Homo sapiens: one gene and its partners. The protein of the gene in region 1 interacts with the protein of each later gene in a biochemical or structural test. Each region holds a gene or a part of one and is shown in the gene's direction. Other genes may lie near its edges. The genes, in order: ITCH, SH3GL2, MAPK8 and RNF11.

The links.
Region 2: the proteins of ITCH (region 1) and SH3GL2 form a complex in vitro, tested with the Homo sapiens proteins (2 studies listed by BioGRID, with this or other methods).
Region 3: of the proteins of ITCH (region 1) and MAPK8, one has a biochemical effect on the other in vitro, tested with the Homo sapiens proteins (2 studies listed by BioGRID).
Region 4: the proteins of ITCH (region 1) and RNF11 form a complex in vitro, tested with the Homo sapiens proteins (2 studies listed by BioGRID and IntAct).

The regions. Positions count from the first base shown.
Region 1 is NC_000020.11:34,435,860-34,444,118, forward strand, and holds part of ITCH (E3 ubiquitin-protein ligase Itchy homolog), read left to right. Parts: intron 1-2,614; coding exon 2,615-2,772; intron 2,773-4,295; coding exon 4,296-4,485; intron 4,486-6,348; coding exon 6,349-6,444; intron 6,445-8,259. UniProt on the Homo sapiens protein: Acts as an Acts as an E3 ubiquitin-protein ligase which accepts ubiquitin from an E2 ubiquitin-conjugating enzyme in the form of a thioester and then directly transfers the ubiquitin to targeted substrates.
Region 2 is NC_000009.12:17,791,092-17,797,909, forward strand, and holds the end of SH3GL2 (endophilin-A1), read left to right. Parts: intron 1-139; coding exon 140-243; intron 244-2,275; coding exon 2,276-2,406; intron 2,407-4,452; coding exon 4,453-4,652; 3' UTR 4,653-6,033; downstream 6,034-6,818. UniProt on the Homo sapiens protein: Implicated in synaptic vesicle endocytosis. May recruit other proteins to membranes with high curvature. Required for BDNF-dependent dendrite outgrowth.
Region 3 is NC_000010.11:48,301,762-48,310,433, forward strand, and holds the start of MAPK8 (mitogen-activated protein kinase 8), read left to right. Parts: upstream 1-4,915; 5' UTR 4,916-5,060; intron 5,061-5,467; exon of another isoform or gene 5,468-6,527; intron 6,528-8,672. UniProt on the Homo sapiens protein: Serine/threonine-protein kinase involved in various processes such as cell proliferation, differentiation, migration, transformation and programmed cell death.
Region 4 is NC_000001.11:51,231,648-51,239,932, forward strand, and holds the start of RNF11 (RING finger protein 11), read left to right. Parts: upstream 1-4,625; 5' UTR 4,626-5,109; coding exon 5,110-5,232; intron 5,233-8,285. UniProt on the Homo sapiens protein: Essential component of a ubiquitin-editing protein complex, comprising also TNFAIP3, ITCH and TAX1BP1, that ensures the transient nature of inflammatory signaling pathways. Promotes the association of TNFAIP3 to RIPK1 after TNF stimulation.

The DNA.
Region 1 (8,259 bases):
GAGTTGAAGGTTGTGATGAGACTGAATAAAAGATACTGTAGGAGGCAGGTAGAATAAATAGGAAGTTGTAGTTAGAGGGATTTTAGAGTTCAAGATCTAGGAAGAGGAACAATTCTAAGTATCAAGGAAATTTAAGGAGTTGTACGGGTTATCAGATGACTCCATTGAAAAATTGAGATCAAAATGTTATAAGGGTGTACAGCATTGATGTTAAAATTCCCCAAATTTTAATCCCCAGCAACAAATCATAGCATTTTTGGAATCCTGTTTCTGCTGTACCTTTATCATAGTAGGTTTATCTCATGCACTGAATGTTCCTTCTCCCTCACATATCCCTAAAACTTGTCTAGCACTGAATGTGCAATTTAGTATGAATTTTCTAGCTGAAAGATTTTTAGGCATCTTGTAGTCAAGATAATACATTTTAGGATGCATTCTTGGGTCACATAACTCATCAGTAGCAGAGTCAGAGCTAGAAACCTTAATTTCCCAATTTTTGGTCTATTCTACTCATTGTTATCTGTTATTTAAAAAGCAGCAGGAACTCTTCTTTCAAACTAGTTAGGAACGTCTTAAAATAGCATGGAGAGGCAATACGCAGTCTTAAAATGGTTTTGGAAACCTCACTTAGAAGAAGAGAAGCAGTGTCAAAGCTGACTCTTCCTGCATTCAGACCATGTTCTGCAGGTAGTCAACACTAATCAGGTGCTGACTGCCAATTACTGAGGTGTTCCCTCTATTATAAGCATTTGGGGAACCCCCAAAGTAGTGCTTGTCATACCTTACTGTCCACATATATAATCTGGGGATCTTGTTAAAATGCTAGCTCTGATATAGTAGGTCTAGAATAGTTTTGAAGATTGTGCATTTCTGACAAGCTCCTGTATAGTGCTCGTCCGTTTGGTTTAAAGACCACACTTTGAATAGAAAGGCCCTAAAGGATTTCTGTGGTACACAGTTTGAAAATGTCTTTTAAAATATGAGGACTGGTACGCAGTGGCTCGTGCCTGTAATTGTAGCACTTTGGGAGGCCAAGGAGGGAGGATTGCTTGAGGTCAGGAGTTCAAGACCAGCCTGGGCAACATGGCGAAACCCTGTCTCTACGAAATACACAAAAGAATTAGCTGCGCGTGGTGGCAGGTGCCTGTAGTCCTACCTACTCGGGAGGCTGAGGCATGAGAACTGCTAGAACCTGGTAGGTGAAGGTTGCAGTGAGCCGAGATCACACCACTGCACTCCAGCCTGGGCGATGGAATGAGACGCTGTCTCAAAAAAAAAAGGAAAAAGAAAAAAACTATGTGAGGAGAGAGAGATGTTAATTAGCTTGACTGTAGTACTTTTTTTCACTATGTATATCAAAACATCATGTTATACTGTTTTTATTAAAAATAAATCATTGCAATACATGTTTTACAGAAAAAAAATTTAATACATGGTACTGCCTCTCTGTTTCTTTGTTTGTTTGAGACAGGGTCTCACTCTGTCTCCCAGGTTGGAGTGCAGTGGCGCAAGCTCAGCTCACTGCAACCTCCACTTCCCAGACTCAAACAATCCTCCCACCTCAGCCTCCTGAGTAGCTTCGACTACAGGCGTGCCCTGCCATGCCCAGCTACTTTTTAAATTTTTTTGTACAGACAGGGCCTTGTCATGTTGCCCAGGCTGATCTGTCACTCCTGCGCTTAAGTGATCCTTTCACCTCAGCTTCCCAAAGTGCTGCAATTACAAGCGTGAGCCACAGCACCCGGCCTCTGTTAGTTGAATCTATTAGATTTTATTTTGTTCAGGCTTATTCTGAAATTCCTAGGAGTATGGGTTAGTACTGTGTAGTGGTTTGGAGGTAGTACATACCAGAGCCTTGGCTGAGACATCTGCAGACTGGCTACTTATGCCCTTGTTTCTAATCTATGACTAGAGCCCCTCTGGAAGGAAAAGGAATCAGCTATATTTAGCCAACAGTAGCAGTAGCTTTCAGTCTGACATTTCCTGTTAGTGTTCTTCCCTCCTTTCTATCCCTCCAGTTGATGTCATTGCTTTGAAGAAATGACAGCTCCTTTAAAAAAAGTCTGTGGTTACTTCTACTCTAAATCACTAGCTTTGAACATTTTGTGTACCATTGTACTGAGCTGGGGGATATCAGGGCCTAGTCCCTGGGAAATACGTGCACTTTGTTCTCCTAGCATGGGAAAACCAGACCTGCCTCAAACTTGAATTAATAGCCAGTGGAAATCAAGAAACAACAATGGTAAAGTTATCTGTGCTTGTGATAAAATAGTGCCCTAAGGATTTTGAGAACTTGACTTTGTTCCTGTTCATATAGGGCCTTCTGAAGGCTTATTTGAAATATGAACCAGCATACCTAATAGTTCTGAATGGCCACAAGTGTTCCTATGCCCTTGGACAACCCATCACTCTATCTCTAGATGAACTCTGGGGGTTATATAGGATTCTACCCAAAGGCTCTTTATGTATTTAATAAGGCTGACCAGAAATTAAAAAGCTTTTTTGAAGCTCTTAAAAACTTAGAAGTTTTCATCCTCCTGCTGTTTTTTTTCTTAAATTCAAGGAGTATTCATTATTTCCCTCTCCCCCTTCCTTTTCCCCTCTTCTTACCCAGAGTGAGCACAAATGGATCAGATGACCCTGAAGATGCAGGAGCTGGTGAAAATAGGAGAGTCAGTGGGAATAATTCTCCATCACTCTCAAATGGTGGTTTTAAACCTTCTAGACCTCCAAGACCTTCACGACCACCACCACCCACCCCACGTAGACCAGGTTTGTATTCCAGCTCTCAATACTCTTGGAAATAATGTCCTGGTTGGCAATTAATCCTCAGGTAAGTGTCAGGAAATTCTTTTAGGTGAATTTTCTGCGTGTATTTTTACATTTAAGATTTTGGAAAAGAATGATCTTTCTGTAGGTAACCAAAAGTGCCTTTTTCCTAAGTTTTTGTTCAAGGTGACGTTACTGAGGCAGTGCTCTACTGAGAATGAAAATGACATGTGCGTAATATAAAGTATAGGCGGTGCAGATAACATGGCAATAACATTGTACCTTTCTTAAATGGTTTGTAACTATAACATAAATGTATTAAATACTCAAGGATTTGGTTGCTTATTCCTAGTATATCCTTTAAAAAGTTAGTAAACGAAAACCCAACAATGCTAAATGACCCAGATTTTAAATAAAAAGTACACAACAAACAAGCATATTTTAGGTAGTAAAAATGTGAACACCTATAAGACTATCCACTTCTCTGATAGCCAGAACAAATCTTTAATCTTACCTTTTATTGTTTCTCTCTGCTAATATGTGGGCAGGGAATGCAGTGTAGTTAAACCAAATATTACTAGAAAAGTACATTAGTTCTCTGCAAATAATTTTAAGTGAATTTCTATTCAATTATACATCTTCTCCTTTTTATTTTTTTATTTTTTGAGACAGGGTCTCACTCTGTCACCCAGACTGGAATGTGGTGACATCTCAGCTCACTGCCACCTCTACTTCCCAGGCTCAAGTGATTGTCTAGCCTCAGCCTCCCGAGTAGCTGGTACCACAGTCATGAGCCACCAATGCCTGGCTAAATATTTATATTTTTTGTAGAGATGGAGTTTTGCCATGTTGCGCAGGCTGGTCTGGAGCTCCTGAGCTGAAAGTGATCCTTCTGCCTCGGCCTCCCAAAGTGTGGGAGTTACGGGCGTAAGCCACTGCAGCCACATCTTCCCCTTTTATAGATAATTTGATTAATTGTATATTCTGAGTCTTTAAGATGTCTTTATTATAATCTTGGTGACTTCCTCTAGACATTGTTTTGTCCACAAGTATTTCTTAAAGGTGTAATGTATGACTACTAACTATCTGTAAGAATGTTATTTCTTATCAGACCTTCCATATTATAACCAACATCAAAAATTGGTCTGTAATCTGCACGGTTTCACAGGAAAGCAGTTTTAAGGAGCTGGAAAATTAATAAATGAACTTAAAATACCAAGGAATATTAATAATTTCCTATTCTAAAAGTTTTTATTTCCAGTGACATCAGAAGATCAGAGAACCTGTACATGCTTCGTGATTAGTAATGGGACATAGGGGTAGACAGGACCGAAAAAGTAAACAAGCCTATTAACTGGCAGCGTTGGTTATTTCCCATTACTTATTTCTTTAAGTAATTTTCACCTGTGCATCTACATCTTAAGTTTTATATTTATCATCTGCCTTTTATTTTTTACAGTTAAAATTCTATCCTGAATTTTAGAAAATGAAAGATTCTTTTCCTATTTTCCCCAAATCTTTTATAGCATCTGTCAATGGTTCACCATCTGCCACTTCTGAAAGTGATGGGTCTAGTACAGGCTCTCTGCCGCCGACAAATACAAATACAAATACATCTGAAGGAGCAACATCTGGATTAATAATTCCTCTTACTATATCTGGAGGCTCAGGCCCTAGGCCATTAAATCCTGTAACTCAAGCTCCCTTGCCACCTGGGTGAGTAACTTTTTAAATTAACATATGTTGTCTTTAGGATTCTTCATAAGCCTACTTATTAATAAGGAAAATAACAGTAAACAACAGTAAACTCCATTGTTTTGATGACTGTTTTTTAATTTCTTTTTTTTTTGAGATGGAGTGCTCTGTCTCCCAGACTGGAGTGCAGTGGTGTGATCTTGGCTCACTGCGACCTCCGCCCCCTGGGTTCAAGTAATTCTCCTGCCTTAGCCTCCCTAGTAGCTAGGATTACAGGTGTGCACTACCAAGCCCGGCTAATTTTTGTATTTTTAGTAGGGGATTTCACCATGTTGGCCAGGCTGGTCTCGAACTCCTGACCTCAAGTGATCCGACCACCTCAACCTCTGAAAGTGCTGGGATTACAGGCATGAGCACCCAGCCAACTGTTTTTATGTTATTGTAACTGATTTTGGGGGATCTGGAGTCAAAATGAACAAGGAAAACACACCATATTTGAAATCTTCAGGGCAAAGTGGAAAAATATATTTTTTCATCAAAGGACCCTGAAAGTTAACCAAGGCCAATTAATAAAATAATCACCTAATTCCAATTGCCTTTTTCTTTAAGGGGGAAAAAATCCCTTTTTAATATCAAACTATTTTTTTCATCAGAAGATCATTATAGGCTGGGCATGGTGGCTCACGCCTGTAATACCAGCATTTTGGGAGGCCGAGGCGGGCTGATCACCTGAGGTCAGGAGTTCGAGACCAGCCTGGCCAACATGCTGAAACCCCATCTCTACTAAAAATACAAAAAATTAGCTGGGTGTGGTGGCAGGCGCCTGTAATCCCAGCTACTCGGGAGGCTGAGGCAGGAGAATTGCTTGAACCTGGGAGGCAGAGGTTGCATTGAGCCAAGATCTTGCCACTGCACTCCAGCCTGGGCAACAAGAGCAAAACTCCATCTTGGGGAAAAAAGAAAAATCATAGCAAAGTGATAGATAATTCAGAAAACTGAGAAAATTTGTGCTCATAATCCCATTTTAATCTCTCCTGATTATTTTAAGATTATTTTCATAGATTGTTTTTAAGATACTCAGGTGTAATTTTTTCTTGTTTATTTTTTGTTTGTTTGTTTGAGATGAAATCTTGCTCTGTTGCCCAAGCTGTAGTGCAGTGGTGGGATCTTAGCTCTCTGTAACCTCCGTCTTCCGGGTTCAAGTGATTCTCTTGCCTTAGCATCCTGAGTAGCTGGGATTACAGGTACCTGCCACCATGCCCAGCTAATTTTTTTTTTTTGAGATGGAGTCTCACTCTATTGTCCAGGCTGGAGTGCAATGATGCAATCTTGGCTTACTGCAACCACTGCCTCCCAGGTTAAAGTGATTCTCCTGCCTCAGCCTCCTGAGTAGTTGGGACTACAGGTGCCCACCATCATGCCCAGCTAATTTTTGAATTTTCAGTAGAAACGGGGTTTCACCATGTTGGCCAGGCTGGTCTTGAACTCCTGACCTCAAGTAATCCACCCGTCTCAGCCTCCCAAAGTGTTGGGATTACAGGTGAGAGCCACTGCGCCTGGCCATTTCTTTCCACTCAAATCCTGATTATACCCTGATTGAGAGTGACTTCGGTATCCTAGGTAGACGGACCTCAAGCCTCTTCAGGAATATGTTTTCTCCTAGAGCAGATACTTGCATAGAAGAAATTGAATTCACTGTGTGCCACTGCCTGAAGATTACATTTCTTCACTTTATTCCTAAATTGTATTTGTATCATCTTTCTAAACTGATGTCCTTATTTGCCTTAGTTCAATAATGGTCATTTAATGGAAATGCAAAGACAGGATTAAAAAGCCAGGTAACTCATGCAAGTATTTTACCAGCCTTTTAATTTTGTATTTAAGTTGGGAGCAGAGAGTGGACCAGCACGGGCGAGTTTACTATGTAGATCATGTTGAGAAAAGAACAACATGGGATAGACCAGAACCTCTACCTCCTGGGTAAGTATCTAAATTTAAAAAGAATAATTTTATTTAGTCAGAATTGTGGATTACAACTGTATAATCTTCCCTACATTTCTGTTTTACTTTTTCTTGTCAGCCCTTTCTCTGTCCACTTTGTTTTGTGGTAAGTACAAATTAAAAAGAAGAGAGCTAGACAACTGATTAATTCAGAGCCTGATAAACAATTTTTGTTTTCACGCATATTTCTTTCTTCTTTTCTTTATTTTATAGAAACAACATCTCGCTATGTCGCCCAGGCTGGTTTTTAACTCCTGAGCTCAAGCCATCCTCCCGCGTTGGCCTCCCAAAGTGCTGGGATTACAGGCGTGAGCTATCATGCCTGGCCCTATTTTCACTCATTTCTGACCTAAAGATTCCTTAGGTGGGCTGGGCGCAGTGGCTCACGCCTGTAATCCCAGCACTTTGGGAGGGCGAGGTGGGAGGATCACGAGCTCAGGAGATTGAGACCATCCTGGCTAACGTGGTGAAACCCCGTTTCTACTAAAAATACAAAAAAAAAAAAGCCAGGCATGGTGGCGGGCACCTATAGTCCCAGCTACTTGGGAGGCTGAGGCAGGAGAATGGCATGAACCCAGGAGGCGGAGCTTGCAGTGAGCCGAGATCTCGCCACTGCACTCCAGCCTGGGCGACAGAGCAAGACTCTGTCTCAAAAAAAAAAAAAAAATTTCCTTAACTTTTCTTGTCTAAGCTGTTTACCTGTTTACTAATACTGTAGTTTAAGTATTAGTTTCTTCAAGAGTAATTATTTAAATGAATAAGAATTAGAGCCCAGTCATATATTAAAATGAAGTTCTTATTATATTTAAAAAACTATAATAGCAAAATCATTTCAAATTAATTGGGGAAGTTAAGGATATATTAATACATGGTGTTAAGCCTTTAACATTAACATTAACATTACAGTCCAGGCACGGTGGCTCGCGCCTGTAATCCCAGCACCTTGGGAGGCTGAGGTGGGGGGATCATGAGGTCAAGAGATCGAGACCATCCTAGCCAACATGTTGAAACCCCGTCTCTACTAAAAATACAAAAATTAGCTGGGTGTTGTGGCGCGCCTGTAGTCCCAGCTACTCCGGAGGCTGAGGCAGGAGAATGACTTGAACCTGGGAGGTGGAGGTGCAGTGAGCTGAGATTGTGCCACTGTACTCCAGCCTGGCGACAGATCAAGACTCCGTCAAAAAAAAAAAATCATATAAAATAATTGAAGAAAAAATATTTTTTAATCCAGAGGAAAGTCAGTAACAAACATGGAAAAATACTTAACCTTGTTAGTAATCTGAAGGAAATATACCCTGAAAAGGTACTGTTTTAGTTATTAAATTAGCAGATAATATCAAGTGTTGGTGAGGAACTTTACGTTGTTAGTTGCTGCCGGGGCTGGGCACAGTGGCTGATGCCTGAAATCCTAGCACTTTGGGGGGACAAGGTAGGATGGGCGCTTGAGGCCAGGAGTTTGAGACCAGCCTGGGCAGCATAGTGAGACCCCATCACTATAGAAAGAAAAAGAAATTAGCTGGGCATGGTGGCATGTACCTGTAGTCCTAGTTAATCAGGAGTCTGAAGTGGGAGGATCTGTTGAGCCCAGGAGTTCAAGATTACAGTGAGCTGTGATCATGCCACTGTACTCCTGGGCAACAGAGCCAGCCCCTGTCATCCTCCCTGCATCTGCCCACCATAATTATGTATTAATACATACCCTTCATAATCCTCTCTGTGAAATTTATCCTAAAGAAACAATTCAAAGGAAGAAACAGTTTGCTACATTAAGAATATTCATTATTTTATTATTTA
Region 2 (6,818 bases), on another chromosome or scaffold:
TGGCTTATCACACAGTCATCAGCACCACCAACCAGGGGCTGTGTGTTGAGGGCAGCCCTGGTGTATGTATGAAACAGTAGTGGCTGTTTAGGGATGGTAACGTGTAAAACTAAGGCATGATTTTCCCATCAATCTGCAGATTGAACAAGTGAGCCAGCTCTCTGCACTTGTGCAAGCTCAGCTGGAGTACCACAAGCAGGCAGTCCAGATCCTGCAGCAAGTCACGGTCAGACTGGAAGAAAGGTATTCTACAGTTCCCTGCATTTCACATTTGCATTTTATTGCTATAAAATGATGTATAAAGAAATGGAAATCATAGAATACATTTGGAGACAAACGTCTGCCAAAATTCCGCTTATCCTACAGAGGCGCCTTGTGGATTGTTTTGATTTTGTTTTTTCTTGTGCTTTGTTTTACGTTGTTCTGTTGAATCTAATTTTCTGCTTATGAGAGATCGATACTTGGATTATATTTTGGCTGCCACAGGTGGAACACCAGGATGCTACTGCTGATAATGGATGCCATTTGCTGAGCAGTTATTCCATGTGGGTACTGGATACATATCATCATCAATCTTATAACAGCCCTGTAACCTAAGTGTTTTTAGCCTCGACTAACAGATGAGTAAACTGAGGCTAAGAGAGGTGAAGTAACTAGCCCAGGGTCACTCAGTGGTGCAAGTGGAGTTCACAGCCAGCCATAACCTGTGTGAGAGGCTGTTTCTTTTCACATCTTGTGTTTCTCTGAATGGCGGTCAAGTCCTCTGCCATCAGAGAGAGCTACTTTCACCTCATTAGATGTACCTCACAGCAGGGCTGTAGTAGTAGGAAACTACCGTGTGAATGTGGCTCCGTGGAGTTGTGGGGCACAGCCTGTTTGGCTATATACCAGTGGCCCTATGTTATAATATGTGTTATTTTAATTTAGCCAGATTAAACAGGATGATTTTGCTGAACATGTATACCTCAAAGGGTCACCTCAGCAAGCTTTTTTCTTAGGCCACATGGCCAGATTAGACTCTCACAGCTGATCACATGGCTGCCTGCGTGAAGAAGACACCAATCATACGATTCCACACCTGTTTTCGTTGTTTTCCCTCAGGCTGATCTCATTTCAGTATTTTCTTTGATTCATGGTTTAATTGAGCATTTTCCTTCGGCGCAGCCTTATGGAAATTTATGTAATGCTGAAGCCTCCAGAAAGGTTTTAAAACCATATACTTCAAAGATACTAAAGAAATACTATGTGTCTTTGTAATGTCTCTTGAGCATGAAGGGAGCCCTTTCCTTTTTTTCCTCTGAAATATGTTCAAAGTCAGTATCATTCTACAGTTACCATACCCTAAACCCTCGCCCTCCCTTGCATATCTCTTACATACTTTGTTTATTGAATAACTGAAACTTTGGAAAATATTTAGGGGTATGTAGAAGACAATTATTAGCCATACCTTTCCAATTTCCTTTTGTCTTCCCTCTTTCCTTTCCTCCTCCCTATATTTCAAACTGCTCATTCTTCTAAGAGCACACAGTATATTTCCTCCTTCCCTCTGTCCAAACCTTCTCATGTTCTGAATAGAATAGCTCCCTTTCACATTTTCATCTGGAAACAGCTCCTGTGTATCTTTTAGTTCTCTCCTTAAACCTCCTCCAGCTTCCTTATGGAGAGATAGACTCCTTCCCACCTTCACCCACAACCACACCCCTGTGTTCCTGTGGCACTTTGTAGATATCTCTGACAGTGCTTACTAAAATTTATAGTAATCAGTTGTTTGTGTTCTGTCTCCCTTACAGACCATAATCTGTTTGTGTCTTTTTTAAAATTGAAAAAATTGTGGGTACATAGGTGTATATATTTATGAGATACATGAGGTGTTTTGATAGAGGCATGCAATGCATAATAATCATATCATGGAGAATGGGGTATGCATCCCCTCAAGCATTTATCCTTTGTGTACAAGAACTGTGTTTTAATTCATTTTTGTGTTCCTGGTACCTAGCACAGTGCGTATTTGGATAAAGGACTCTGAATAAATGAGAGAGGAAGTGAGGGATTGAGAGAGAGAATGAAGACAGTGAGGACATGGCCCCATAAAGGGACATCACCAAAATCTCAGACATATACATACAAGAAAACTAAGGGTCCTTTTTTGATTTCCCACACTTCATCATGGTAGCATGGTGGGTGACCCAAGCATTTCCTGAATCTTTATATTTGCTTTTCATTTTACTTCTTAACTGGTTACATAACCTTTCCACCACTTTTCTTTTTACTGCAGAATAAGACAGGCTTCATCTCAGCCTAGAAGGGAATATCAACCTAAACCACGAATGAGCCTGGAGTTTCCAACTGGAGACAGTACTCAGCCCAATGGGGGTCTCTCCCACACAGGCACTCCCAAACCTTCAGGTAAGAGCTGAAACTGCAGATCCTATTGCATAGCCCTTGGCATATCCATTGGCACTCTTCCAGAAATTTTAGGAATAGTCCAATCTGGCTGCATAGGAAATATGCAGTAATACATTTCTTATGGAGTCAGTTGTCAGGTAGAAACTCTGTTAAAGGAATCCTTTTGTCTTTTTTTCATTTACCTTTTCTTTCCTTCCTTCTCATTCTTCTCTATAAAACTTTCTTTGTATATCCCATTTTCTCTGTCAATCATCAGCACACACGAACACATTTTGTTTTGACCCTCCTTTGTGGTCGTAAATCGCCTTTCCTTGTCAGTTTGGTCTGCGAGTGTCATCTTTTCTCCTGCGTGTTCGCTCTGAATCCAGCCTGTATGACAGTGAATGCCCCTGGACAGTGTGTCCCCACATGCATTCGCATATAACCCACAGACAGCAAGCGGCTCCAGAAATGTGCTGATGAGCTGGATTTCTTGAGTCACAGAAGCATATGGTTAAATATATTTGTAGAAGATGATATTTTGAAACTCGACACTTGCTGGGTTTTCCTTCCCATGCCTCACCTCTGATCACTTTATCATGCTGTGGCACTGGGGTTGATATAATAAAAGCTAGATGACATTTTATCTCAGGAATATCGATGCATACCAAATAGAGCATTCTTTACCTTGTCACACTTGCTCTCCACTCCTACACGCAGATTACACAACAGCCTGTGCTGGAGACATTTTCAACCTCCACATTTGCTTGTTTGAAGTGGGAACTGTCTTATACTGGATGTGGATGTTAGAGATAGGTAGCTTTCTTTTATTTTTCCTGTATCCCCAGTGCTTGATGTTCTACTGTAGAAAACTTTTTATAAGATGCTCTCAGGAGACTTATTAAGAAAAAAAGCGAGGTCTGAGCCGGCAGGTGGTGCTCTCTGTCCTTTGCGCTCAGCACTTCAGGGCATGACATAAGCAGCTGTGGCTCCTGGAGCTGGCCACCAGGACTAGTCACAGAAATTGTGTATAGCTATGCTTCTCCCTGTCTGAAAACCAACCATATATTTCACTTTTCATCTGGAGACTCAGTAATTTGCTTCTTTCTCTAAATAAAAAAATAAATTACATTGTTTCCTTTCCAGCCACCTAGATGGCATGGGAACTGTGTGCACTTGTCTGAGTCTGTATCTACATGTGTATGTATGTAGTATTAATACAGCGGGTCATTTGGAATAGATCCCTCTTAAGATATGATTTCATCCTTCATTATTTTACTCAAGGTGGAGTACATTATTTTTGTATGCCATAGCTCCAGTGCACTGCATATATTTATGTATGCAACAGTTTACCTTACCAAGTATAAATTACAAAATTTTTTACATAATCTCATTTAGTAGCCACAGTAGTAATGTGAAGTAAGTCCTACTGTTACATCCAATTTCAGACAGTGAAACTGAGAGCGAAGTACCATGTGCAAGGTCACAGAAAGTAAAAACTTGAACTCAGTGTTTTATATTATTCCGTTTTCACCACATTACAGCAGTTTTCCAGAGGCTGGGGTTATCATTTTAAAGAGTGATAACCGAACTGTTACTTAAAAGCATTCTCCATGTAATTCACCATACTTTTTCAGATATGCAAAGGTTTTAAAGTGCTCAGATGAGAGAATTCTTGCCATGCTGTGTTATTAACCTACATCATTATATTCTTCTTAAGTCATTGTCCCTCCTATTTCTGGGCATTATCACGAAGGCAAACTATAATGAACTGTGTTGTATGTATCACAAGAATAGATGTGACTGTTTTTCATACTGGAAACAGAAACAGGAATATGCAGCAACTTCCAAAGGTCCGAGAAAGCTTCTGAGGATTGGTAGAGGGCAAGATGCCCAGTGCAGTGGACACTAAGGTCCAGTAGCAAGAAGAAGCTTCAACAGGAAGAGGAATGAGGGAGGAAAGACGGGGAGCAGCAAGCCAGGTGGGTACAGCAGGCAGCAGATTCTGTGAGTTAAATACCCCTTATCCTTTTGTGTTCTTCTCTTCTCTCCTGCTCTTACTCCCAGGTGTCCAAATGGATCAGCCCTGCTGCCGAGCTCTGTACGACTTTGAACCTGAAAATGAAGGGGAGTTGGGATTTAAAGAGGGCGATATCATCACACTCACTAACCAAATTGATGAGAACTGGTATGAGGGGATGCTGCATGGCCATTCAGGCTTCTTCCCCATCAATTATGTGGAAATTCTGGTTGCCCTGCCCCATTAGGATGTTATGCTGGCTGGCTCGCCTCCTCTTGACCCAGATAGTTACGGTTAACCACTGCTTTGGCAATGCTGCTTATAACACATCCCAAGTGCAGGCCGCAGTGGTCCACGTCATCCAGCCCCACCAAGTGACTTTGGTTGACTTGTGGGCTCCCACAGGAGTCATGGTGATGGATGATATCCTCTTAGCCTGGTGGGCGTGGCATGTGCTTTTTAAAACATCATCTGAGACCAGCCAGTAGTCACAGAACTGCTGTTTACACAGTTCTCAGGAGGCTGTGGTTTCTTAGAATATGACCATGAGCCATTTCACAGAAAAACCATCCCACCGAAGATATTGTCTATCACCCCAGGGGCCATCTGAAGGTCTCTTTGCATTTCTCCATGCAAAGAGGAGAAAGCTTTTGCTTTCACACTGTCCCTTCCCAAATATGTGAGTCATGGAATTGTCAAAGTAAGCCTTCCCTCACCAGCAAATTGTCTCCTGATCTGAATGAATTTGTCTCTTAATGCATCCATAGAAAAGTGTTAATTGTGGGTTCAAAGCATTCTCTGCAAATAGGCATCTCAGCTCCTCACACTTATGGCTATTTCTGACGTATAGCCAGTTTTCTTCCCTCCTTGCTATTAAAGCCAGAGCGGTAATTCCAAATTATTTTTCAGTAAGACAGTTAATCAGCATTATTGTGAGAGGGACTGAAAAGAAATTCTCCATTATGAGGAATTGGGAAGAAATCTGGTATCCAAGCTTAAATTTCTTGCTATACAGAAACTATGTATGTATTTAGGCTATTTCTGAAGGGCACAGGGAAGGGGGAACAAATATCTTCACTTCAGTTTTATTTGTGAATTACATGTTTCATGAATCCATTTGGCACAGAGACACAAGGAAGAAAACACTAGTAACCATCTTTCCACTAGTTCATATACTGAGAAACAGTAAATACCTTTCCTTTCCACTTTTACCCTGTGTTCTTTGAACATCATTTGTGCAGATTCTGCCCTCAATGAGGACCAAATAAAGATGATTTTTGTGCTTAGCAGTTTAAGGTATATGGCTGCATATGCAAAACTCTTTCCCAATTCAGTCGCTACTTTTACTTCTGCCCTTTCTATCCATCGTCTTCATTTTGTGTGTACAGTGCTGTGTGTAAGCTTATCAGTGTGTTTTTTTATTTGTATCAGTCATGAAAGTCCTGTTAGGTATGCAGAGTTCTATTTATCTAGCTGTACAGACTCTTTCAGAGGTTTAACGTGCTGCTTCCGATGTGCCACCTGCAGTAGTGGATCATGTGGAGTGAAAGGCAAATCTTACTGCTTAATGTATAAACTCTCACCACAGGAAGCATCGCTGTTTCCAATAAATATTGCTGAAGACAGAACCAAAGGCTCTGCTCCTTCATTTTGTGTCAGTTCTTTGGGTCTAACACTGGGTGGATGGGGGCTGGTTTCAGTCTCCATTGCTTTCTCATGCAGCCAAACAAGACCTGGCTCCAACTTCATATCTACCTCTTTACACATAGGAAAAGTTTCAGCAGCAAGGAAGTAGCTAGCCTGGACATTGGGACCTTCCTGGTAACCCCAGGAAGGAGGAGAATTTGGGAGAGAAGAAAGTAAGGAGAATTAGGTCTCATAGATGTTAAATGATATATTGTTAAAAGTGGTATCATCTGAAGAATATAATGTTAGGAAGGGGAAATAAAATATATCCCTTCGAGTAGCCTCTTATTTTCTTTCGTAATTGAAGATAAAGAAATAGACATGGAAAAATAGTTTGATCGAAAGTCACTATTAGGCCAGGTGCAGTGGCTCACACCTGTAATCCCAGCACTTTGAGAGGCCAGTGCAGGTGGATCAACTGAGGTCAGGAGTTCGAGACCAGCCTGGCCAACATGGAAAAATCTCGTCTCTGCTAAAAATACAAAAATCAGCTGGGCATGGTGGTGCATGCCTGTAGTCTCAGCTACTCAGAAGACTGAGGCACGAGAATCACTTGAACCTGGGAGGCAGAGGTTGCAGTAAGCCGAGATCACGCCACAGCACTCCAGCCTAGGGTGACAGAGTAAGATGCTGCCTCCAAAAAAAAAAAAAAAAAAAAAAAAAAGGCCAGTATTATTTTCTCTTGATGTATATGTTTGGGGTGTGAGTGGGAATAGGGGAGCAGCAA
Region 3 (8,672 bases), on another chromosome or scaffold:
CACCTAGTTTATGATATTTTGTGATGGCAGCCCAAGCTAAGGCAGTGGGTGTGGATGGAGAGAGGACAATTTAGCATATGTGTAAGATGTGGGAGGTGGGCAAAACATTGGAAAAAAAGAACCAATAATGAAAGTAAGAATAAAGAATGAAAGCACAAAAGCTAATGGAGAGCAAGATGTTCTGTCCAGTTGCTCTGAGGTTTTAAAAAAACAGAAAATACGCCAAATTTCTTAGGGCACTGGCTTTCATTTTTGGCTACAAATTAAAATTACCTGAGGGGATGTGAAAATAGCTACAGAAGCCTGGGCTCCACCCCAGACCACTGGAGAAGGAGCACCAGACATGGAGCCTGGGTGTGGGTAGTGTTTTGTTTTGTTTTGTTTTCCTTGAGACGGAGTCTTGCTCTGTCACCCAGGCTGGAGTGCAGTGGTGTGATCTTGGCTCACTGCAACCTCCACCTCCCAGGTTCAAGTGATTCTCCTGCCTCAGCCTCTTGAGTAGCTGAGATTACAGGCTTGCGCCACCACGACCAGCTAATTTTTGTATTTTTAATAGCGATGGGGCTTCACCATGTTTGTCAGGCTGGTCTTGAACTCCTGACCTTGTGATCCACCTGCCTCGGCCTCCCGAAGTGCTAGGATTACAGCTGTGAGCCACCACGTTCAGCCGGGTGTGGGCAGTTTTAAAGCCCCTCCCCACCCAGGTGATTAAAATGAGCAGGGTGACTTGTGAGTCAGTGTCCTGCTGCTGGGATTCTCAAACTCAAATGGGCATCAGAAATGCCTTGGGGGGGCTCATTAAAACACAGATTGCTGGGCTTCTTCCTCAAGGTTTCTCACTCAGCCGGTCTAAGGTGAGTATGAGAATTTGCATTTTCGACAAGTTCTCAGCTGATGCTGGTCTGGGGAACCACAATTTGAAAACCATCGTCTTAGAGGAATAAATGCTGACCTTTTTTTTTTCCCATGGAAATATGCATGTGTACTCAATCTATAAACTTGACTAGCTTAGTTGGTTCTCTCTTGCATGTACCTGTAAGCAAAAACAGGGTACCACTTGTAACTTCAAATCAGAGTTCTGCCCATTCTGTCTCCACTTCATTTTGTTCAAGTTGCGACTGAGGAGCTCGGGCCATTTTTGGCCCTTTCCTACCCCTGAGGAGCCACAGTTCTTGCAGCTGGAGGATGGATTTACAATACGAACACTCATCTTTCCTCTACTCATGCATCCAGGGTCTGTCTTGCTTTATCGGGAGCCAGCAGGCTCCACCTTGAAAGATTCTCAAAGAACATCCCTGAGTCAGGGACTGACTGACCAAGGTGCTGAACCTCTCCCTCCTGTTGGGGGAAAAGTAGACTTGACTGGAGACATGGGTGGGAGACGAGACTGGGAGGCTTGAAAGCAAGGCTAACAGAGAAGGATGGTGGTGGAGGTGGAGTCAGGGGAGAGGGAGTGTCCTTGGAGATGCCCTTCTGCAGGCTTTAGTTGGTAAGTACCTTCCCACCAACCCAACTCCCCACCCCTGGGGTGAGGTCAGGGAATTAGGAAGTAAGTTGAAGTCTCAGCTTTCAGTTTCTGCACCCTGAACAGCTTGGTGATATTCACCTGACTACCTTAGCCAAAGAAACATCTTCAGTGCAATCCATTGTGTGTGGTCTGGGATGACAAGGGAAGAGATACTCTGGTGGAGTGCAACCTCTTCTTGAACATCCCTCAGGGCTCCAGCAGAGGCTGAGTTTGAAAGGCCTACAGTTCCTCTTCTCTCCTTTCCCCATCCCAGCCTCAGAGGTATCCAAAGACCAGGTGTCCCCAAGACAGCTCCCCTGGGACAAGAGACAAGAAACCTGAATTCACTATATTTTCCTCTTTTTCTGAGTCAGCCCCTTAATAGGTTAACAAGGAACCCTAACAGGTTGACAAGAAAGAATTGCATGAAAAGGAAGAAGAAGGCCCAACACTGCATCTGGGTTACAGAAAAGCATTTTGAATTTGCAGAATATCAGAGATAATTACATTCCATCAGAAATAGCAAAATGCTTTCTGAAATCAATCATACACACACACAAACACACAAACGCACATATGTAAATATGTGGAATGTTCTTTCTAGTTGTAGATAATCAGAAGCTGACCATGGTAGACTGATACTAAGTCAGAAGCTCACTCTGTGGAGTGAGACAGAGGCGGTTATTAACAATAGCATCACAGAACTGGGCGTGAAACTCTGGAGCTCTGCTCCCAGCAACTCCCCTCACTTCACAACAGCTCTAAGGGTTGTATTGTTTTTTGTTACCTCCAGGCCTTTAATTTGTCTGGTGAAGAGTAGGTGGTACCTCTGTCTGTGCACTCAATCACACCCCGTTCTCTCTGGAAACACACGTCTTCCTTCTCTTTTGTGTGTATTCAACCTCTCCCTCTCAACAGTCTTCCCATCAGATGTAAAATATGCTTGTGTCCTACTTCACTGCCCGACTCATCCATATTCACCACCTTTATTTTCTCACCTCCCATTCATTTCCCAGCCCACTCTAATTCACTTCTGGTTCTATTACTCCAGGATTCCAAGCCTCCTCTTATGTTTAATATTATTGATCAGCCCTTTCTTCTTGAACACCTCTCTCCTGGTTATCCTTCTATCTCCCTGGCAGCTCATCACAGACTCATCTTCCCCTTTGTGGCCCTTTAACACTGAAGTTCCCCAAGCCTGGTTGCAGGCCCTCTCCTCAGGCCTAGGCTGACCCATCTATCCCAAGGCTTCAAGGAATCACTCACTGTCAATGATTCGTCTCTTAACTAGCTGAACCTCAGCTCTGTATATCCAACCACCAACTTAACATCAGTTTTGGGCATCTCAAAAGCCTTCAAACAGCCAAACAGCCTGCTCTCATGATATTTTAATGCCAGTCTGGTCCTTTTCCAAGATTCCCATCTTGGTAAACCAGCACTAACATCCATCCTTGGCCACAAGCCAGAAACCTTTGAGTTTTCCTTGATGACTCCCTCTCCTTCATTGCCCCACATAACCCATCACTTGGAGAATGTGCAAGTTCTGCCCGTTGGACCTCCTAAATAATTCACAGATCTTTCCATGTCCATCAACTATTTCCATGACCATCACCCTAGATCAAGCTTCCACCTCTTACCGTCTAGGCTACTCCTACATCCACCTGGGCTCTTTCCAATAAGGAATCTTTTCAAGAAGCTATTCTGACCATGCCACACCCTTTGCTGAATATGTCAGGGGCTTCCCATTGCACTTAGGATAAAAAGATTTTCAACATGGCCAATATGGATGTCCTACGTTTGGTCCCTTTACCAATCTTCCTGACTTCATCTCATAGCTCCTTCTTCCTTGCTCCTCCAGCAGAGCTGGCCTTTCCTGAATTTCTCCATCTTATCCTGCTTAATCTCATCAGAGGACCTTTGCGTGCAAAGCTACCTCTAAAATATTCTCTGTCTAGTCAAACCTATTCCCAGCTCAAGTGACAGTTCCTCAGGGAAATCTTTTCTGGCCTTATTAACTAGTGTATTAATTGGTTTCATAGTATTATGTATCCTTAACAATTTGTATTATAAAACAGTGATAATTTTGCGTTTACTATTATTACTTTCATAGTACAGTGATTAAATCTGTAAACTCTACTGTATTGCCTGGCACTGAATGGGCATGCAATAAATAATTATTGCAGGAACAAAGGATGGCAGGAAGGAAATTAAGAAGGTTGAGAGGGAGGGAGAGAGGAAATGGGAAGAGAATGAATGAATAATCATCTGTATGTTCCCTTTCAGAATCACCAGAAACAGGCCAGCCCCACATGTAATAGGAAAGTAGTTTACCTGAAATCATTCATTTATTCAACAAATATTTATATATTCATTATTAAAGTAACTTACTTGTTTCTGATTGTGAACATAACTATTCCTCTCGGAAAACATGAGAAAATACCCAAAGTATAAACGAGAACCAAGTCACCCTTTATTCCATAGTCCAATGATGAACCATTGTTAACATAATTTGGTGTATTTCTTTCCAGGTTTTTTCTATGTGTATATATAGTATCTAAGTGGGACCATTCTATATATGACTTGTTTCTTGCTTCTTTCTCTTAATGATACATTGTGAACATGTTCCTATGTTGTTAAGAATTCCTTGAACACATGGCATTTAAATTGCTAAAATGTATTCTACCGAATGGTGTAGGTAGTTCAAACGCCTTTCCACCCGTTGTTGGATATTTAAAGGACTTGTCAATTTATCGCTTCTGTAACATTTACACGCTTTGTGGGGCCTCAGAAGTAAACCAGGTAATGCAAGGAATCTGGGAAGAGGTGGATTTGCAAGGAATCTCGGAGGAGGTGGATTTTGGAAAAACTGGAGGCAGCTTTTCCCGGGCAGCTGAAGAGAACACTTATCTCTCTGTAGGTTTCTGGGACCCGGACAGGTGTCCTCAGAATGGAACATATTGTCGGTCAAGGTAACCAGCTCTTCATCACTCAGGTGTGTGTACCGGAAGGGGGTGCCTGTTCGCTGCGCAGGTTAGGCCTAAGCGCACCTGCCCTTCAACCCTGTGCCGACGAGGCCCGAAGGCTTAAGCTCTGACCTGGCTACCGCCGCCAACCAGATGCGGTCCCCTGGGGCCACGCGCCGCCACGTGCCGCCACAGGGCCCGCCCCTCCCGCTCCAGGCCACGCCCCTCACCCACAGCCCTCGGAGGCTCTCTCCGCGGCTCCGCCTCCAAGCGACCTCCGCAAGTCCTCTCGTAACCCCTGGAGTAGCGCCGTCCCCGGGCGGCGGCCCCGCCCCCGCAATCCGGGCCCCGGGGCTGCCCCGCCCCGCCGGCCGCTCGGGAGGCGCGGGGGCGGGGCCCTGCGCGATGACGTGCGCGGGCGTGCGCGGTGACGGCCCGCGTCTCTGTTACTCAGCCGAGCGGCCGAGGCCGGACGACGCGGCTTGGATTGCGGAGCCGCGAGCAGCGCTGGGTAACGGCCGCGGCGACCACCCCGGACGGCCCCTGTCCCCGCTGGCGGGCTTCCCTGTCGCCGTTCGCTGCGCTGCCGGGTGAGTGCGGCGGACGCCGCAGGGCCGGGACGGCAGGCGGCCCCGTCGTGTTTATGTTATTGTGCCGCTGCCGCCGCCGCCGCCTTCTCCTCAGCCGTAACCCCCTCCTGGGAGTGGGGGCGGGAGCGCGCGGTGGGCGGGGGCGGCGCGGGAACAATAGCGGCGCGGAGGCGGGGGCCAGCCGAGGGGGCGTGGGGCTGCGGGACCTGGGTGCGCTCCGCTGCCCGCCAGCCCGCCTGCCGCCGCGAGCCCCGCCCGCCTGTCCTCTCGCGTCCTCTTCGCGTGGGTCCTGCCTCCGCGGCGGGAGAAGAAAATGGAGCGGGGGGGTGGGTGGCAAGTTCTGAAACACTTCGGCAAGGGTCGGACGGAGGTGTCTTTGCGGCCCGCCGCGCCCTGGCTGCCTCCGGGGCGGCGGGGAGCCGGGGAGAGCGCTTCTGCCGGCAGGTCCCCAAGCCTGCCCCGCGCCCATAGGGACCGTATTTTGCTTCTCGATGCTTTCTTTGTGCTAACGTTCTGGGCGAACGCAGGCAGCAGCGCTGAAAAGGGCCAGAGTGGCCTGCAGCTCTGGGCTGCAGGGCAGAGAGCCCAGGCCCGTGGCTCGGGTGGGAGGTGTCCATCCAGCTTGGCCCGAGCTTCGGTGGTCAGCGCGCATTTCTCTTGAGGGTCATCGGTGGTGACCTTTTGACTTTTTCACCCCACCCTCCCATCTCTTTGTCTCGCATTTGTGTTCCCGATTCAGAGATGGTAGAACCAAGTCCATTTTAAAGTACCCTGATGAACACTTTCCGTTTTTATTTCTGAAAGTTCCCTGCTTGGTCTTTACTGCGAATTTAATAACATGTTGACTACATGGCATTGTCCAGTGATTACTATTTTTACCTCTGAAATCCAGCGATCTTTCCAGTAGAATTCTGGTCCGTCAGTCCATTGTGTTTTGAGATAAGCATCCAGCAAGTACCTCCTTGGCAATTAGAACATCTGTTTTTTCATTCATTCATTCATTCAGCAGCTGTTTAGTACCGTACTCAGATGAAGAGGTTTGGTGTGAAGGTAAAGTATCCTTTCATGGAAGAGGATGCTTTGACTGAAGTATAATAGATGGACCTTTAAATGAGACAGTTACATAAGTGATGTCTGTTAAGGAAGGTATGGTTATATTCTGGGTCATTTTTTAAGCAGTATATCTGGAAGTTCAAGTGTAATAGGAAGTAGAATTAGATTTGGTCTAAATATACAACAGCTTTTATTTATTTCTAAATTTTATTTTTTCCAGTCTTGCAGCCTTACAGTCATTTGTAATGGTTACCTCAGATTCCCCTGCTGTGGTTAACGTTAAACCTAGGAGGTCAGATGCTCTAAGTGAACATGTTTAGTGCTGTGCCTGACAAAAGCAAGCAATCAAAATGGGACTTCCTTGAGGGCAGGCCTGTCTTGCATCTGTTTCTCCACCACCTAGCCTGGAATATAGTAAGTGTTCAATAAAAGTCGGATTGATGAAAAGCTCTTTGTAATTGATAATATTTAAAATCAAGCCTTAAAAAAAACCGTAATGTTCTCCATAAAGTTTTGGAAGCTTCATGCAACTGTCGCATCAGATGGCTAAATGGTCAGTTCATGTACATTATCTGTTATGATGACATGGGCTTTTGAATCACGTGTAGGTCATTCACTGTCCTAAAATAAAATCTTGTCTAAATATTTTTTTAATATGATAAATAAAGTAGGTTGTGGAGTGTGTGTTTCTGTGTATGTGCTAGTTTATGTGTGTCCGTGTGTGTGCATGTACGTAATCCACACACAGGCACTCATAAACTGGTATTTCAGTAGGGGTCTAAAATGATTGCATTTATAATTTTGTGAATATTATTTGAAAGTTTTTTGGTGACTCTTATTGTGGAAAATTGAGGACAAAACCACATAAATGTTTTATTAGAAATATTTCTAATATTTTAGAAATGTTTACTTGAAATGTTTGGTTTTAAGTTCTAACTTGTATTAACACAATTGGTACAAAATATGAGCCTAAAACTCAAAATAATTGATTTATCGAAGTTAAAGCTCTTTTCCACTTACTAAATACAGTTTAGCGTTTGTTTTGTATTTGAAAGAATATGAAATGAGTTAACTAATGAGTTTCTTATTATTTGCTGTAAAGTGGAAATGAAGAAATAAGAAAATAATACTTTTTTAAGATGATGGTTGAAAATCTTTGAGATACCAAAGTTTTATTGCTTTACCTAGTTAGGGTATGTCAGATTCTAGTAGGGGTTACTGACAATCCTTTGGCAGTAGCTCACAGGCTGTGTAAAGAACCAGAGTTGTGTTACTTTGTTTTCCAAATTGTTGGTTTTTAAAAATAGCTTTATTGCAATTTAATTGACATAAAATTCACCAGTTAGAGTGTATATATTTCGGTTTTTAGTATTTTCACAGTGTTGTGCCTTGATCACCATCACTAATTCCAGAACATTGTCATCACCCCAAGAAGAAACACCATATCCATTAGCAGTCACTCTGAATTTCACTTCAAATTATCCTTTAAAGTAAGAGATATAGCATCGATTCTGTTAGTAAATATATTCCTTTAGTAAGTATGAAAAGGGCTCCTTTTAAATGTCCTGTCCTGGCAGAATAGGAAACTATATCCTTCATACTCCTTTAGATCCTGGGGGAAATGCCATTTGGAAAGGAAGTCAGTGCAAGAATAAATTGTATACAAATTAATGTGGTTATAATCTTAACTATTTGCTCCATGCCTGATATTATCAAAGTGACCTTGTGAGGATGAGATGTTCAGTGAAACAACTTGAAGGAATTTGTTGTTAAATGACTAGTCCCCAACTATCCTAGTGCTAAGAGGTTGTTGAATAGGAGCCTGCTTCTTGTTGGTCTGCTTTGCCAGCGGGTTGAATTTTGACATATTTCAGTCATCTACATGGTTGAGATGCTTTGTTGCACGAGTGGAAATACAAAATAATGTCTGACATTAGGATTCCAGTGCTCTAGAGGTCTCTGGTCAAGTCAATGGTATGGGTAGTAGCTTTTCTGATTCATGTGGTCCAAGGAAGTCATTATAACCACATAGCTTTATATATGAATCATTTGCCTATGTCAGTGAACTGTGATGCTGATTGTCTTAATCATGAGCTCTTTACCTGAACATTTAGAAGCCTTGCATTCTTACTCTTAATGCAGGTTAAGTTGAACTTTGATTTCAGAAGTGAGTTGACTGAAAGGTAACAGGAGTATTGAAATGAGTTATCCTGTCATTCAGGTCAATAGGTGGAGCTAGAGCAATCCAGGAATCAGACCTAGGTTCATTTCTCAGTTCTGCCATCTGGACTTTGTCATCAAATTCTGGAGCTTTAGGCAAGTGCCTTAATGTTTTTGGCTTTAAAAGTATAAACTGAGGCTGTCAGAACTTTTTTTTATAGAAGGCTTGTTCCTCAGATAGGTGGTTCTTGAGAAAACATACTAGGACAAAAAGAGCCCTTCTTGGGTGATAATCAGAAGCCTAAGTTAAGAACAGTAGTCAAAGTTAGGATTTTGTAATTTTGTAATTTTCAGAAGCCAAAAAAATTGTTGAGTTGAATTTTTTCTTTAATATCCAGA
Region 4 (8,285 bases), on another chromosome or scaffold:
TTCAGCGGCTTGTCATTATAAAGTATTTCTACCACAGAGATACACTAGAAGGAAATAACCTCAATAACACAGATAATAGTGAAATACAGTAAAGTAGTTAGAAAGCCACTCGTTTTGGGTATTTATTATGTTTGTTTTTAATATACCTTTTAACTGTAAGTTTATATAATTTAATTTTTAATAATGACTATGTTTAACAACAAGGTCACACAATTCCTGAAATTCTAACAATTGACTCATATGAGCTAGTATGAACCAACTCTAGCACATCTGTTTATATCTTACATCATTTGTAATATGGGGATATCAGTAGTGTCCATTTCATAGAGTTTTGAGGGTTGAATGAATTACCAGAGAGGGCAAATAAAACACATGCTGTCTAACAGAGAGTGTTTTATAAGAGTTTGCTATGATGGCTATTATTCAACTTGGGCCAAAGACAATGTTATTTTCACATCTGATTAGCTTGTGAGTATCCAAAAGAGCCATGCTGTGTTAGGCCCTAGTCACTCTGCAGATCATTTAATTAGCATTAAATGAACAGAAGTAAAGCATTTGGGACAGTGCCTGACACATAGGAAGCACTACATAAGTGATAGATACAATTTTATTCTGGTAGTTTTATTCATTATTATCAAGACCACATGGCCGGGCATGGTGGCTCATGCCTGAAATCCCTGAACTTTGGGAGGCCAAGGCAGGTGGATCATTTGAGGTCAGGAGTTCGAGACCAGCCTGACCAACATGGTGAAACACCATCTTGATTAAAAATACAAAAAGTTAACTGGGCATGGTGGACCCCGGCTATAATTCCAGCTATTCAGGAGGCTGAGGCACGAGAATCACTTGAACCCAGGAGGTGGAGGTTGCAGTGAGCCAATTGTGCCACTGCACTGCAGCCTGTGTGATAGAGTGAGACTCCGTTTCAAAAAAAACAAAAACAAAACAAAACAAAATTCTATCGTTTTTTTAAACTATGTTAAAATTGTAGCTGATATTTTACTCATCCACAAAAAAATAATGGTCAATAACCATTCATCTTTTCTAAAATATCATTTCCTCTGAGCTCAGGGGAATATGCAACAGTTATTCTCTCACCAGACACAGAGGTCTAAAGCTGTACCTTTGTGAGGTAGTGATATATATATGCTCATGGAAGCAAAAGTTAAAAATAAAAGTAGAACAAATATAAAGGTCTGAATGTAGCCCTGCTAACTGTTCACCTACTTGTCTCATCTACTTGAGTTTGAGCTATTTGAAGGCAGGGACCATGTCCAAGCCATTAATGGGCTTCAAATGCTCCTCCCATCTTCTGGTGAACAACTAGCCTTGTTTGTTTGTTTGTTTACTGAGACGGAGTCTCACTCTGTTATCCAGGCTGGAGTGCAATGGCGTGATCTCGGCTCACTGCAACCTCCGCCTCTCAGGTTCAAGTGATTCTCCTGCCTCAGCCTCCTGAGGAGCTGGGATTACAGGTGCATGCCACCATGCCCGGCTAATTTTTGTATTTTTAGTAGAGATGGGGTTTCGCCACATTGGCCAGGCTGGTTTTGAACTCCTGACCTCGTGATCCACCCGCCTCGGCCTCCCAAAGTGCTGAGATTACAGGCGTAAGCCACTGCACCCAGCCCAAGCTAGTTTTAAACTTAACAATATAACTTATTTTCACAAGGCACTATAGAACTTTTCAAGGGCTTGTGTCAGTGTTACCCACCTGTGGAAAAAAAGAATGAAAAACAAAACTTAAAAAAATAAATCTGGCCTGGCGAGCTGGCTCACGCCTATAATCCCAGCACTTTGAGAGGCCAAGGTGGGTGGATCACCTGAGGTCAGGAGTTCGAGACCAGCCTGGCCAACATAGTGAAACCCCGTCTTTACTAAAAATACAAAAAATTAGTTGGGCGTGGTGGTGCGCGCCTGTAATCCCAGCTATTCAGGAGGCTGAGGCAGGAGAATTGCTTGAACCGGGGAAGTAGAGGTTGCGGTAAGCCAAGATCGCACCATTGCACTCTAGCCTGGGCAACACAAGCAAAACTCTGTCTCAAAAAATAAAAATTAAAAAAAATTAAAACTAACTAAATAAATCTATGTCTGGCCAGGCATACAGTGGCTCACACCTGTAATTCCAGCACTTTGGGAGGCTGAGGCGGGAGGATCGCTTGCGCCCAGGAGTTTGAGACCAGCCTGGGCAACATGGCAAGACTTCGTCTCTACCAAAAACAAAAACAAATGCAAGGCATGGTGGTGTGCATCTGTAGTTCTAGTTACTGGAGAGGCCTGAAGCAGGAGGATCACCTGAGCCCAGGAGGTTGAAGCTGCAGTGAGCCTCGATCAAGCCAGCCTGGGTGACAGAGTGAGACCCTGTCTCCAAAACAAACAAACAATGTCTACAAATTCTAGCACTGTGTAAATATTATGTCAAATAATTGTATAAATTATTATTAATAAAAATTTCTTTAGGTTTGACAATAATTTGTGGGGTAAATTTTCTCACTTTGTAAAAATTCCAGGGTACCTCTGATTTCTGGTAAATTTAGCCAATCATAAATTAAATGAGTTCTTGGAAGCTCAACAATTCCAAAACCAAAATTGTGAGTCAGTTTGTTCTTTCTTTCCTTCTTTCCTTTCTTTTTCTTTTTCTTTCTTTCTTTCTTTCTTTCTTTTCTTTCTTTCTTTCTTTTCTTTCTCTTTTCTCTTTCTCTTTCTCTCCCTTCCTTCTTTCCTTCCTTCCTGCCTCCCTTCTCTCTCTCTCTCTTTCTCCTTCCTTTTTTTTTTGAGACTGAGTCTTACTCACTCCCTCGCCCACGCTAGAGTGCAGTGGCACAATCTGGGCTCACTGCGCTGCAACTTCCACCTCCCAGGTTCAAGCGGTTTTCCTGCCTCACCCTCCCGAGTAGCTGGGACTACAGGCGTGCACCAGCACACCTGGCTAGTTTTTGTATTTTTAGTAGAGATGGGGTTTCACCATGTTGGCCAGGCTACTCTCGAATCCCTGACCTCAAGTGATCCACCCGCCTTGACCTCCCAAATTGCTGGGATTACAGACGTAAGCCACCACGCCTGGCCCAAAATTATGAGTCTTTTCAAAAATTTTATATCAAAAAGGTGATATTTAATGTGGAATTTGAGTGCATTTAAATAAGATAGTGACTTCGTAGAATAGGGACTGCAGAGTAAGAGTGTTCAGACCCATTCGAGTTTAATATAGCCCTACCTCTAAGAATCCTTTCTGTTCCTCACTCAAATGAACTAATTGCTGTCTTTCAGTTCCTCTAAAAACCTTGGGGTCCGTGGCAGGGTGTGGGCTTAGGACTCACCTGATTACTTGTCTTCCCAGGTGGTCTCTGGGCTCTATCAGGAACAAGCCAGGTATGATCATCCTTTTCCCCAGTCCTTAGCGTGGGGTCTGGTATACACACGCACACACAACTTCAGTAAATGGTGAATGAAACGAAAGGCAGTCAAGATCCACCTGTTGAATGAACGTCTATCAGGAGCACTGTCATCCTTCTTGCTTCCTTCTTTTGCATATGTTGTTTGAGCTGCTCATTCAACCAAGGAGAGAGCATACTCTACCTTGGGCAGTGTGCCAGCCTTGCACAGAGGGACAGATGATTCAGCTTGATCAGGCTGTGACAGAGAAAAGCTCAGGGTCTGAGAGCACACAGGATGCGACTAACCCAGACTGGAGGGTCAGGAGAGTCTCCCCAGGGGAAATGAAGTTGCATCCAGAAGGATTCCTGAGAATAATGATTAGCCTGATGAGAAGCAGAAAGGTTGGGAGTGGAGGGAAGTGGGTTTCTGTGAGAGAAACAATATGGACAAAGGCCCCAGGCAGAGGCAATAGTATTCCAGATAACGAAAAGCATTTTAGAGAGTCTAGTTTAGAATTTGTGAAGGAGGTGACAATGCTGCTAATGAGATTGAAAGGGAGTCAGATTTGTAAACCATTTAAGGATTGTCTTAAGGACAGCCTTGAGGAGACACTGAAGGTTTTAACAGGAGAATGACATGATCCGATTTAAATTTTAAAAAGATAACTCTGTCAACTGTGCCAACAGTGAATTGGATGTGGGCAATGATGAACTCAGGAACAGCTGAGAGTCTATTGCAGAAGCCAAGGTGAGAGATGATGGTGGCTTGGACTTTGGTGCTGGGACTGGAAAGAAATGAACAATCTGATATACAACTGGAAGAATAATCTCTCTGGCTGTGATGTGGAAGGATAAGGACGTGATTGGACAGGCAGGGATGGTTCAGTAACGAGCTAGGACTTTATTGTGAAGGGATAAAGGGGAAGCTTTTAACATTTTAATCATGGGACTGATCCATTCCGATATGGGTTTATATAAATAGACCGCTTGGCGGAGGGTGGTGAGAAGACTGTCAGGCAGTGCACAGGTAAGAACTGAGCCCTAGACGGGGCAGGAGCAATGAATGTGGGGAGGCGCGGGAGACGGGAGATTGGTTTCGGAGCCAGGTACGGAGCCAAGCAGTCAGAGAGAAGCAAAAATTGACGCAGCACCGAGAACAGCTGCTAGTGGAGAGGGGGATGGGCGCCGCCGGAGCCGCCCTCGCCTCCTGGCGCCGGGGGCGGGACCAGAGCACGCACGGCGCGATGACGCAGTGCCCGAGCCGGCCTCGTTCTGGCTGCCGCCGTCTCGCTGAGGCGGAGTAGGATGAGGCCCGCGGCCGTGGCTCCGGCGTCGGCGGGGGCAGCAGCAGCTGAGGCAGCAGCTGAGGCAGCCGCGACGGCCGCGCCCCCCCCCGCTGACCTGGATTAGGCCCAGCAGCTCCGTGGCCGCCGCCGCCCCGCGGGGGGGCGGGGTGGGGAAGTGCTTCGTCTCCCCGCCCCCCCCCCCCCATCGCTGCCTCGCAGGAGGCGAACGCCGCGACCCCAGCGGAGCCCGCGGCCCAGCCTTGATCCCCCAACCCCGGGGGCTGGCATGAGCGGCCCCTCGGCGGCACCGTGGGGCGGTGGAGTCGCCTCCGCCTGATCCCCGGCCTGTCGCCCGACCCCACCTCGCCAACCGAGGCGGACCGCGGAGTGTGCGAACGACCCCACCGCTGCTTTCTCCTCCCCCAGATCACGCACCCCAGCTCCGGAAGATGGGGAACTGCCTCAAATCCCCCACCTCGGATGACATCTCCCTGCTTCACGAGTCTCAGTCCGACCGGGCTAGCTTTGGCGAGGGGACGGAGCCGGATCAGGAGCCGCCGCCGCCATATCAGGTAGGGGAGGGTGTGTGTTGGGGGGAGCGAGTAGAGGCAGCTCTGGCGGAGATTGAGGGGGCTTCGGGGCCGTCTCTGCCCCTGGCTTCGGCAAGGCCTGGCCTGGGCGGCATTGACCCCTTAGGGCTGGATCTGAGGGCATTTGCTCTCTGATCTCAGAGTAAGGTTGATTCTTCGCCTGCCCTCGGGCACCGTGTGGGGATGATACCCTCTGCCCTTGAGTTCTGGGATCAGAGTATGTGATCACATCCCCTTGGCCAGTGTCTGGTGGTTCGCTTGTGGAGTTTGGGAGTGACATTTTCCTGTCTTTATGTCTGAATCGTATGATTTCCTCATCGCACCGCCAACTGGATTATGGGTTCTGGATAGGTGGTTGCCAAGCACCACCCCCCCGCCCCATTTATGTTTTCATGTGTGGTCGTCCTCTTACCCACCTCCCTCGTCTTTTTGTTAATTGGATCTGGCAGGTTTTCCCTCTGCTTGGGAGACGGATCTCCAAGTGGTGATTTTAACCCTAGCGACATCGAGTTACTTGTGTGTGTGTGTATATATATATATATGTGTATATATATATATATATATATGTATATAAATTTTAATCCCTCCTCTTTTTGCTCCACCCATATGACACACCTTTTAAACGTGCTGACTTAAGAAAACTTGATTAGCTTGAACTTTGGAAACCTTTAAACCTGGCTTGGGAAATTCCTTCGGTTACTCGTGTTCTCCCTTTGTATCAAAGACTCTCCTAAATACGTTGTACTGCTTTTTGTACAATAATCAGTAGTCCCAGATGTGTTGCAGAATTCGAGTGAAGACCTCTTAAACTCAAAATAGGTATGTGGATGTTATAATCCACAATAGATGTGTGAAAACCTTTCCTGTACTTTTTCCATTTTAGATGATATTGAATACACCCTTTTCCAGAGGGCTTCAATAGTAGTAGTGCTTAATTTCTTCCTGAAGAGTTTAGTTTTCTGACTGGGTAGGCTCCTTTGTTGTTTCATGTGATGACATCATTATCTAGTGTTTTCTTTTCTCATTCCTGTGTAAACCAATGTCTCATCACACCAGAAAAACCTGATCATATATATGCTCGTTTTCTGAATAAAATTCTTCTGGGGGCATTTCATATATACCAGTAAGGTCCAGTCTTGATTGTGGTATTACAGAAGCCTCCATGACTTCTCCCTCTTACGTTCTATATTCCAGGCCTACCAAATACACCAGGCTGTTCACAGCTTTGTTTTGCTCCAGTTCCTCTCTGCTTGGAGCCCTTCGCCCGGGTCAGCCAGGTGGACATCTAATCCTCTTTGAGAACTCAGCTTTCATGTCTGAAGTCCCAGCATTCCCTTCCTTCCCAGCCCGAATCCCTTGTGTCCCCACTGAAACCTCTACACTTCCATAAGCAATATCTATAACACTTTAGTGTTGTATCTTTGTTAGATGTGTGTCTCATCCTTGTAATCGCCTCCTTCAGTGCAAGCTGCGTGAAGGTAGAGAATCTGTGTTTCCGGTTTGCTGTTGTATCCCTCGCATCTGCCTCAGTAGGGACTCAGTAACTGGGAGATAAATTACGAGTAAAAGCCCTTGAGAACAGGGACTCTCCCCTCGCTCAGTTTCTGGCACATAAGCACCTAAATGCTGAATTAATTAATGAAGTTGAATTTAGTATTTTCTGTATTTACACAAATATTTTTTCCAAAGTAAGTTGTCACAGGGTAGTCTCTTAAAAATCAAAGCTGAATCTGGGTGTCTTTACAAGTACCTTTGAGTGAAGCAAGCAAGCTATGTTTATCCTTCACTGTCTTTCCCTCCTATGTTTACTATACAACAAAAGTGCTTATTTAACTTTTTTTTTTTAATGAGATGGAGTCTCGCTCTGTCACCCCGGCTGGAGTGCAGTGGCACAATCTCACTGCTTACTGCAACCTCCACCTCCCGGGTTCTAGCGATTCTCCTGCCTCAGCCTCCTGAGTAGCTGGGATTACAGGCGCGTGCCACCACACCTAGCTAATTTTTGTATTTTTAGTAAAGACGGGGTTTCACCATGTTGGTCAGGCTGGTCTTGAACTCCTGACCTCAAGCAGTCCACCCACCTCAGTCTCCCAAAGTGCTAGGATTACAGGCATGAGCCACCGCATCTGGCATGAAGTTTTTATTTTAAAATCTCTTATGCTCCCTACCCTCACCCCCTTCTATTTTTAAAAAAATAGAGACAGGGACTCCTATGTTGCCTAGGCTGGTCTTGAACTCCTGGCCTCAAGCAAATTCTCCTGCCTCCTATCCCCTTTCTTAATTGAATATCTTTGACTTGTTCTCTTTCTCCTATCCTTATGATAATTGTACTATTAAAGGTACTAGAATTTATGGAAACTGTGTTTGCCTTTTCCAGAAGAACTAGGTGATGATGAGGGATGAGGGGTTTTTGGTGTCATGAAGGAACTTTTTTTGGAAATGTTATATTTTTGACAGTGGGAGTTTTTTATGGTTGCAGTTTCCTGAAGTGAATGACGCAGACTAATATACAAATTCAGTATCAATCAGAAGAAAATTACTTTAAAACATGGGAGCATAAAAAGAAACTTTTGGAGAAAAAGTATTGTCCCCCACCCCCAAAGAAATAAGATCTGTCTTAGGAATGGTTATTTTAGATGATCTGAGAAACAGCAATCCAAGGTTATTTATTCATTTATTTGAGTTGAGAATCTCCCTCTGTCATCCAGGTTAGACTGGATTGCTCACTTGGCAGCCTCAAACTCCTGGCTTCAGGTGATCCTCCTCCCTCAGCCTCCCAAAGACTGGGATTACAGGCGTTAGCTACCTCACACAGCAGATTTATAGTATTCTCAGTTGATAAAAGTAACTTTTTCAACAAATTATATGTAATTAACAGTGAATAGCTGATTGTAAAGGAACATGTTCTCTTGAGGTGAGTAGTTAAAAGATGTCATTGTTTGCTGCTTTATATGTACAATGTACATATAATGACAAGAGCCAGTTACAGTTATTTCCTATTAACATCTGACAAATTTGTTTTTATTTATTTTTGC